3 separate regions of the Homo sapiens genome follow, and regions 1 and 2 are each reported to be linked to region 3. Evidence: microRNA targets listed by miRTarBase, many of them from high-throughput screens and not tested one by one. Region 3 holds a microRNA gene; each other region holds the end of a gene's coding sequence.

Region 1 (3,255 bases), not on the chromosome of region 3:
TTCATGCCCCGGTCCACTCAGCCTTTAACCTTTACCACTGCCACTTTTGCTGCCACCAAGTTCGGCTCTACCAAAATGAAGAATAGTGGCCGTAGCAACAAGGTTGCACGTACTTCTCCCATCAACCTCGGCTTGAATGTGAATGACCTCTTGAAGCAGAAAGCCATCTCTTCCTCAATGCACTCTCTGTATGGGCTTGGCTTGGGTAGCCAGCAGCAGCCACAGCAACAGCAGCAGCCAGCCCAGCCGCCACCGCCACCACCACCACCACAGCAGCAACAACAGCAGAAAACCTCTGCTCTTTCTCCTAATGCCAAGGAATTTATTTTTCCTAATATGCAGGGTCAAGGTAGTAGTACCAATGGAATGTTCCCAGGTGACAGCCCCCTTAACCTCAGTCCTCTCCAGTACAGTAATGCCTTTGATGTGTTTGCAGCCTATGGAGGCCTCAATGAGAAATCTTTTGTAGATGGCTTGAATTTTAGCTTAAATAACATGCAGTATTCTAACCAGCAATTCCAGCCTGTTATGGCTAACTAAAAAAAAGAAAATGTATCGTACAAGTTAAAATGCACGGGCCCAAGGGGGATTTTTTTTTTCACCTCCTTGAGAATTTTTTTTTTTAAGCTTATAGTAAGGATACATTCAAGCTTGGTTAAAAAAATAATAATAAAACATGCATCATTTTTCATTTGCCAACCAAGCACAAAGTTATTTTATACTGACTGTATATTTTAAAGTATACTCTCAGATATGGCCTCTTACAGTATTTAAGATATAGCAAGGACATGGCTGATTTTTTTTTATAAAAATTGGCACTAATAAGTGGGTTTATTGGTCTTTTCTAATTGTATAATTTAATTTAGTACAAAGTTTGTAAAATATCAGAGGATATATATATATTGTTTCTACGACATGGTATTGCATTTATATCTTTTTACTACAGTGATCTGTGACAGCAGCAGCTTCATGTTGTATTTTTTTTACTGAAATTGTAAAATATCCATCTTAAAGACATCAACTATTCTAAAAATTGTGTACAGGATATTCCTTTAGTGGTGGAATTAAAATGTACGAATACTTGCTTTTTCAAAAAAATGTATTTTCTGTTAAAAGTTTAAAGATTTTTGCTATATATTATGGAAGAAAAATGTAATCGTAAATATTAATTTTGTACCTATATTGTGCAATACTTGAAAAAAACGGTATAAAAGTATTTTGAGTCAGTGTCTTACATGTTAAGAGGGACTGAAATAGTTTATATTAAGTTTGTATTAAAATTCTTTAAAATTAAAAATGCCTATTGTCTTTGTTTTTAAGTGTTTTCTGAAGATCGACCTCTGGAGTTATTATGTTGTAAATGCTAATGATGGAAAAAGGCCTGACTCATTGAGTCACGAAGGAATAATGGAAAGCAGTTGCTCTACTGATGTACCAGATCGTGGTTTGCCACATAAAAAATGCTATCAAAACTATAGCCTGACCAGTGCTTGGTACAACTTTATTTTTTAACAGCCCTCTTCAGTCCACATTTGTCTACCCCATTATAGAGATGGTATGGTAAGGTTAGCTATACAGCAAGTTTCAAAATGTCATGCTGACATGGAGGAGTCAGGTGATAAGATGAAATTCCTTCGTGTAATCTGAGATGATTTATTTGAAATTTATATGGAGAGAGCATTGGATCAGTTTTCTGTTTTTGCTGAGGAAACTTGCTTGGACAAAACGGCTGACTGAACTTAGAAAAATTTACATCACTTTACTAATCTTTAAAGTTTAGCTATTGCATATAGCTAGAGAACTTATGGTCAAAATCTATTCACGGCTGGACAGATGGTTAGATGTTAGCATTTTCATTTTCCCAGCAAAAACGCTTATGTATTTAATTTTTTGCAAGTGGGTACCCAACCTGCTGGTTTGAAGGATTTAGAGATATTGACAATGTATCAAATTGGAGTGGCTTGGTGAGGATGGAGTTTTTTAAAACTGAAGAGTTGGGGAGAAGAACACTAAATGAGTCATTTCACTAAATGTCAATTGATACAGTATTGACATAGTATTGGTGAGAAAGTTAACGTCCATTTGATACAGTGTTGACATAGTATTGGTGAGAAAGCTGTCTTAAAAAACTTTATATGTACTTTTATAGTAAGAAACCAGCACTGCCTGGGTTACCAGTGAAATAAATTTGGTCTCATGAGCTTTTTGGACACCAGTCTACAAAAGCCTTTTGTCATTTACCCATGCAGTGTAGAGCAATACAAAGTTTTAAGGAAACAAGCACTGGAAATAACAGAGCTAAGCTGTTTGTCAGCTCCATGGTGAGGCTTTTGTTCTTTAGGGAACAGAACGAGGCTATGAAGAAGTATTGGAATAATGGGTGCAAGCAGCAGAGATCTGGTCTGCCAACACTTACCACTTACATGCTTTTGTGATCACGAAGTTTGAATAGCTGTAAGAACCATCAGGATAATGGCTTTAAGCACTAGTTTCTGCTACAGACTGATAAAGTTACATTTGGGAGAAAACTCTACTTATAAATGAAGGCTCAAGTGTAATGTGCTTTTTCTGAAAATCATAAGGCAGCTGGACGGAACATAATAGAATTTTTTTTTTTTTTGAGACGGAGTCTCTTGCTCTGTCACCCAGGCTGGAGTGCAGTGGCACCATCTCGGCTCACTGCAACCTTCCACCTCCCAGGTTCAAGTGATTCTCCTGCCTCAACTTCCCGAGTAGCTGAGACTACAGGCGCCCGCCACCATGTTGGCTAATTTTTGTATTTTTAGTAGAGACGGGGTTTCACCATGTTGACCAGGCTGGTCTCGAACTCCTGGCCTCAAATGAGCTGCCTGCCTTGGCTTCCCAAAGTGCTCTGATTACAGGCATGAGCCATTGCGCCTGGTCAACAATAGAATTTGAAACTGTCTGGAGCACTAATATATTCATTTTATTTTGAGACAAGGTCTCACTCTGTCACCCAGGCTGGAGTGCAAAGGGGCCATCTTGGCTTACTGCAACCTCCACTAAAGCGATTCTCCTGTCTCACTCTCCTGAATAGCTGGGATTATAGCTGCGTGCCACCGTTCCCTGCTAATTTTTGTATTTTTTGTAGAGGCAGGGTTTCGCCACGTTGCCTGGGCTGGTCTCAAACTCCTGAACTAAGGTGATCCGCCCGCATTGGCCTCCCAAAATGCTGAGATTACAGGCGTGAGCCACCACACCCAGCCAAGCACTAATATATTCAGATTTTAAATA
Region 2 (3,261 bases), not on the chromosome of region 3:
GGGGCTCCTCTCTGCCCCGGCCCTGGCCGCAGGTCTGGGGGCAGAGGAAGCCCGCGGGCGCTCACCTTGCGGCCGTTCACGTAGAAGAGCAGCTCGGACGCCCGGTCCATTGTGGTGTCCGCGCTGGTTCGAGGGCCCGGAGCGGGAGGCGGAGGTTCTGGGAAGTAGCGGGCACCTGGGACCCGGCGGCACCGACCCGCCGAGTGGGGCGGGGCTTGCTGGAGCCTAAAGTCCAACCCATCCACCCCGACGGAGAAAGCCTTGATTAAGATCCAACGTTCCTGAGCTCTTTGCCAGGAACTCTTCCCGGGACACCAGCACGTGTGTGGGCGTCACTGGCGCCCTCTATGTGGGCGGAAATCATCCGGCGAAGATGAAGACGACCCCTTCATCTCCTCGCCAGTGGCGCTTAGCGTCTGTGTCACACCCTCTTGCGTCTTAGCAAACATTGTAAGTCCTGGGACATTGCTTTTGATGGTCTTATGTTACTGCATATTTTAGGTGGTGTTCCAGCTGGATTTAAGTCTGGGAACATTAGTAACTCCCCTCCAACCAGGCCTGCTGTAGTCCTGGACTCTTAAGTGTAAACAATCATATTTATTCCAACTCTGCAAGAGCGGATCTTAGGGAAAACAAATAGGTTTACAACTTGATCTTTTAGAAATATAAGGTTGGTGCAAAAGTAATTGCGGTTTTTACCATCACTTCCAATGGCAACAACTGCAATTAATTTTGCACCAACCTAATAATTACTGGTTTTAAAATGAAGTGCTATCTTGATATAAACTTAAAAATTTTATCACTATTTACAGTTTATCCAGTAACTAACCACAAAGTTTATCTGGTAAATAAGAACAGAGATGTAAAACATCTTGGAAAACTTAAAAAAAAAAACTTGGAAAATACAGCAAAGCATAAAAATAAAGAACACCTGTAAGCCCACAACTTAGAACTTACCACCGTTCACTTTTTTAGTCTATCCTTACTTTTTGAAACATGTACTTTTAACACCTTTAAAAACTTAAGTGGGACAAACTAGTTATTTTCCAGGCTTTTTTCACTTGCCATACCTTAGAACATTTTCCCATGTTATTTCATTTATGTAAACACAAAAATTTTATTGTGAAATTTTCCAAACTTTGCACATAAAAGTGAAGAGTGCAATTGGCATCTACCTGCCCTTCACTGAGCTTTAACAATGGTCAACGTTTTGGCATACTCCATTTTTTGTAGTATTTAAAAGCCAATCCTGGACATATTTTAGCCCTAAATACTTCAAAAACACACATACACATCCTTTTAGTCAGCCGCAACACCATTTCACGTGTCTAAAAAATGTCTTTTACACTTGACTTCTTTGAATCAAACAAGAGCTGTGCAATGTATTTGCATGTGGTCTCATCAGTCTCTTTTGATCTAAAACAGACTTTTTAACACTATTAACACATTGAAAAAGAAACCAGGTCAGTTGTTCTATTGAAATGAACCATTTTTTGAATGTGGCTAATTGCTTCTCCCTGGTATTGTTTTTCTACTCTACTTATTTCCTATGCACTAAATATTAGATCTAAAGCTTTGATTAAATTCAGGTTCAATTTTTTGGGGGGGAGAGGGCAAGAACACTTCATAGGTGGTACCATATAATTAATATTGCAGCACAGCAGGAAGCATATGGTGTCTGGTTGTTTCATTCGTAATGATGCTAACATTGATCAGTGGGTTCAGAGGGCTATTCCTTTGTAATGAATTTCTCCATCAACATTTCACCTAATTGTTTTACATCCATTGTTGAGCATTGCCTGAGCGGTAGTTTTAATAGGGGTTTGCAATTTTTCTAATTCTAGCATTTCTTCTTCATTCATCAACTGGGATTCTTTGAATAAAACTATCCATCCTTCACTAGAGCTATTGACTAAACCCCTCCAGCACTCTGTACCCCCACTGCAGTCTCTCAAAGTGTGGTACTAGGACAATCCTCGGACGGACTCACCTGAAGCATCTGATTAAGATGCAGATTTCTGGGCCCACCGCGTTAGTGGTCAGATATTGTCTAAAAAAGTTTTCCATCTAGGTGGAATAGAGTTTGAGTAGTCATTTGAATTCAATAAACTGTGTATTGATCTCAGATATGAACAGGATTTATTACTACTTATTACTGGAAGAGTAAGTGATCTTTAAAACCAAATTATAAAAACCAAATTCAAAAGAGCCTGAAAGGTTAATCTCCTCCTCTAAGTCATCAGATTACATATAATAGAAATAATACAGAAGCTGACATTCAACATGTATTTCTGAAAACAGAAGAATGAAGGGAGAGAAAACGGGCCAGGGCAGGAGGTGGCTTTTAAACCCTTTTGGATGTCCACATATATTGAATGGGTTAAAAACAGACAGCAAAACAAGACAGCCTAGTATACAAGATAACCAATGCAAAGGTATTTATTAACACATTTTATTTGGTTAAAAGGTTATTGTTTGGTTAAAGGCTACTAGGTAAAAAGAAGCTTAAATAAACAGGAAGGTAAGTTATATGATGACCAAAATGACTCAAAAAGTTTAATGTTACAAAATAGCTATTTTATGCACATATACCTATTAATAAACATTAAGAATGGACAAATCAACACTCCATGAAAGGCCAAAGAAACAAAAAAAAAACCTTTTCATTAAGCATTTCATCTTCTTGATACTATATTTCTGTTTTGATTCCTTATGCTTTGAAAATTCAGAAAAACCAGAATCCATAAATTCACTTCATCTTCTCATCTTGCTGCAAAGTAGAAAAAAAGGAAGATTAATAACAACCCAAAATTAATGCTTTTGCTGTGAAGCATGGAGAAGAAAATTGTTTCATCATATCAGTAGAAAAGAAGTTTCCTTAAACCATAAGCTTTGTTAAATACTTGAAATACTCTAATTTTTCTTAAATCTTATAGTTCTCACTATCAGAGTACTTCAAATAATTCATTTCAAATATTTAAGAAAAATTAATCAACATAGATTTTATATATTACATGTTTATTACATAGTTCCTTTTTGTTAGAAATTTAGCATATGTTCAAGAACATGTGAAAATATACCATTTAAAAACAAAGTAAATGCTCATGTTCCTACACCCAGGTTAAGAAACAAAATATTACCACACCTCCAATATGCCCCTTTCTGATCACAACCCTCTCCTCCCCCAAAAAGGGACCACTATCCTGAATTCTATTATCACTCCTTTCTTTACAGTTTTGTTTTAAGCGTTTGTGTATTGCT
Region 3 (3,261 bases):
GACATAGTAGGACGTAGAAGTCTGACTTCATTACCTTGTACCAGTCGTAGCTGGATGTTGGAAAACCGTGTAAAAGCACAACTATCTCTGGACTTCCAACCACACCCACAGAGTCTAGGAAGAAGGAAAGTACAATCAATTATGCCAAATCCCTATAAAAATAACCTCGAAGATGTTAAAATCTAAGTAATCTGATACAAAGAACAAGCAACTGTGACCAAATTGACATTAAAATGACACAATTATTTGTAAAATGTAAGCTTAACTGCGTTAGGTGAGAACAGGCCTTTTCTCCTTTCAATCTGTATATTAAAACATTGTAAAAATCATGCTATGTGAAAATACTTGAAGGCACCTTGTTTACTTTCACCTAGGTGTTTTTAAACAGCATCTCCCCATTTCTCCTTTTGTTCTGTAATATGCAAATTTTTTCAGTGAAAAGTAAATTTTCAGTTAAAAGCATATGATCACAACACATAAACTACAAATTCTTTGTACTTTATCATGAATGGCCTCACAGAAATTCTCTAAGATACAGCAACTATTCCCAAGGAACACCTTTAGCTTATGCTGTTTGCTCAGCACTTTTTATTCAGCAGGAGACCCAATCTAACATCAAAAACATAATAAAACTATTACAAAATCCTGTCAACTATAAAAAGGGCTTAATCAACATAAACATGAACTTTTTTAATGCATATGACAATATGGAAGCATTCAGCATCATCTAAATTAGGTAAACATTTAGACAATATTAACCTTGCTAATAGTATGGGATTAGAACAGGTATATTCATATACTGCCAGTGACATGAAAATTTGGTAATAAGGTTTTCAAAAATAATTTAGAAGCAGTTAAAAATTGTATATACTTTAGCCTAAGAGTTTTGTTCTTGAGAATCTGTGCAAATAAAATCATTCCATTTATACAAGTAGTATAGTTTGAAAATGTAAGGAAAAAATAAACTGTATGGACATGAAGCTTTTACTTCAACATTAGTTTTCTAAAACAGTAAAACTGGAAGTAACCCAAGCCAACATAATAAAAATTGTATACTTACTTAATTGAATATAGCAAATGAGAGGAGGTCAGGAGCAATAATGAAAAACGGTTTATGACAAACATTTTTCGTTATTGCTCTTGACCCCCGCTCAAAACAAATCATTTCCAATCTGTTTCTCAGTTTCTTCACCTATAAAATGAGGTTAATGGCACCTATCTCCAAATGCTGTTGTAAAGATTAAACAATGAAGGCTGAAAACATAACTCAGTGCCTGGCATATGGTAATTACTTGATAAGTAGTGGTCATAATAATCATCATCACTAGCAAATTAATTTATATAATGGTATCAAGACTTAAATCACAGTTACACTACAAATAATCTACAGAAAAAATGAAATCAGGGATGGTAAGGAGAGAGAACCAATGGTGGTTATATCTATTAATATTTTATATATTACCTGACAGGTTGCTCAAAAAAAAAAAAAAACTAATATTGGAATACATATCAAGCTACAAAGAAAACTTATACTAAAAGGTAAGGTCTGCAGGTTGGAATCTCAGTCCCTACCCCCATTCTCCCAGCAGTTTTCTGCGCTTCTCTGCAAGCACACTACACAGAAAGAGAGAGAGATACTCTCCTCCATCATTAAGGAGCAACAAGAGACCAATAGCCACAAAATAAATACCTCAGCTGGGACTTATGTGACCGATACACGCAGGACTTCCAATAGTCCACTTCTTACCTTGGTAGAAGATACGCAGTCCCTTGTAAGTGAAAAACTTGCCTGAAGACTTCCATGAGTGAAGGGCAGGGGAGAGCTGAGGGGGTGGGATGTGCAGGTACGCAGCAAGCAGGGGCACGGCCAGCAGCCCCACCTGGACCCACCACTCCCTCATCCTGTAGGAAAAGCAGAGACCCACTGTAAGCAGTCAGGTAACATTGTCCACTCATCTACAAACCAAAACCTGGTAAGATGGGGTGGGAGATTGCTGTTACCATGCAATGATTACATTGCCCTTCACATAGGCACAAAGCTGACCGAGACTATAATCAAACCTCTGTCTGCCATAGCACTCACCATATTTGTTCATCATTCTAATCTTAAGGAAAAAAAATACATTATTTCAACATATAATCTTCTGCCTCTGCTCCCCGACTTTAACCCCTTAGCCCCTACCCTTGTGGTCTTCCCAATACCTGCTGAAGAGGACTTTATATAAATAAAAGGGACATGACTTAAATGCTGGACACTCTTTCGTTGACTTTTATCAAGGCTTCCCAGGAAAAAAATAACTTCTTTCTTATTTACTCCAAAAGCTCTACCATCTACCCACTACCCCCAACCAGTAAAATGTTCAAAAAATATATATGTGCTATATCTCATGTTTTAAAGAGTGTGTGTGTGTAGTAACTTATCACATGTCCTCAAGCAGAGAGCTACTCCTGATTTTCAGCCCTCCTGCCTAAATGAAGCCCCATTTAGTACTCCTTTCTGGATTTGGGCTGAGAAACTGCTCAGGGTAAACAGTCTGTGAAAGTAAGATAGCTGCACTGTGTATTCCAACATAAGCAGCTTTGTCATGACCCTGAATATCTAATCTCTTGAGAGGTCAAGGCGGTAGATTACATTTCTGCTTTTCTTAGCAGACTCTTTAAGTTTCCATTTAATTTCCTAAGATGCTCCCCCACCCCCAGATAAGGCATAACTCATACCCAGCGTGTGAGAATTGATTTTGTCTTTGGAAAAAGAGCACTGGTTGGTACACCCAACCCTCCCATGCCCAGGACTTCAAAGGCACAAGTCAGTTTATCCACATTGACAAGGAGTGCCAAACAGGAATTATAAACCGTTCTGTTTCAAGTCTATGACTTCTGATGGTCAACAGATCAAGAATTGTCAGTAGAATGGAAGTTCTCTCAAAACAGCCAGAATGGAAATAATACCCTCCAAAACTAAAATTAGAGTTGTCATAGAGCTGAAATAAATTAATTGCTAAAGCCCTGGGGGAAATGGCTTTCCGTCTGTACACACATTCTTCCCTATTGCCTGTAATCTACCTACCCGTTCGCTAACTTCCTCAACTTACAAGATACTTTTCCCCCCCATATCCCTGATACTTTTTGCTAAAATCTAAAAACAAGCCTGTGGTTTTACAGTGGTAAAATAACCATGTTTCTTAAACAATGTCAGCTCCCCAGGCTATTTTTTAGGCATTATTAGGGCAGTCATTTCTTTTTTTCTCCAAAGTACCTGTC

The links. Region 3 holds the annotated microRNA hsa-miR-335-3p (UUUUUCAUUAUUGCUCCUGACC, at 1,087-1,108, opposite strand). A microRNA usually pairs through its seed, bases 2 to 8, with sites in the 3' UTR of a target mRNA and lowers its output. Matches are read on the target gene's strand: a 7mer-m8 pairs with bases 2 to 8, a 7mer-A1 pairs with bases 2 to 7 and ends in A, and an 8mer does both.
Region 1: the mRNA of TOB1 is a reported target of hsa-miR-335-3p. Seed matches in the 3' UTR shown: 7mer-A1 at 1,195-1,201.
Region 2: the mRNA of SGO2 is a reported target of hsa-miR-335-3p. Seed matches in the 3' UTR shown: 7mer-m8 at 2,661-2,667.

Annotation. Positions count from the first base shown.
Region 1 is chr17:50,860,265-50,863,519 of GRCh38, reverse strand. TOB1 (transducer of ERBB2, 1) reads left to right here. Exons shown (of 2, transcript NM_005749.4): 2 at 1-1,297. The coding sequence ends at 540. Among named protein-coding and RNA genes, the nearest start is that of TOB1, 4.5 kb to the left of the region's middle.
Region 2 is chr2:200,582,958-200,586,218 of GRCh38, reverse strand. It overlaps SGO2 (shugoshin 2), which reads right to left. Exons shown (of 9, transcript NM_152524.6): 9 at 2,123-2,770. The coding sequence ends at 2,755. It overlaps AOX1 (aldehyde oxidase 1), which reads right to left and starts at 205. Exons shown (of 35, transcript NM_001159.4): 1 at 66-205. The coding sequence starts at 110.
Region 3 is chr7:130,494,009-130,497,269 of GRCh38, reverse strand. It overlaps MIR335 (microRNA 335), which reads right to left and starts at 1,159; the gene lies at 1,066-1,159. It overlaps MEST (mesoderm specific transcript), which reads right to left. Exons shown (of 12, transcript NM_002402.4): 2 at 1,748-1,902; 3 at 35-114.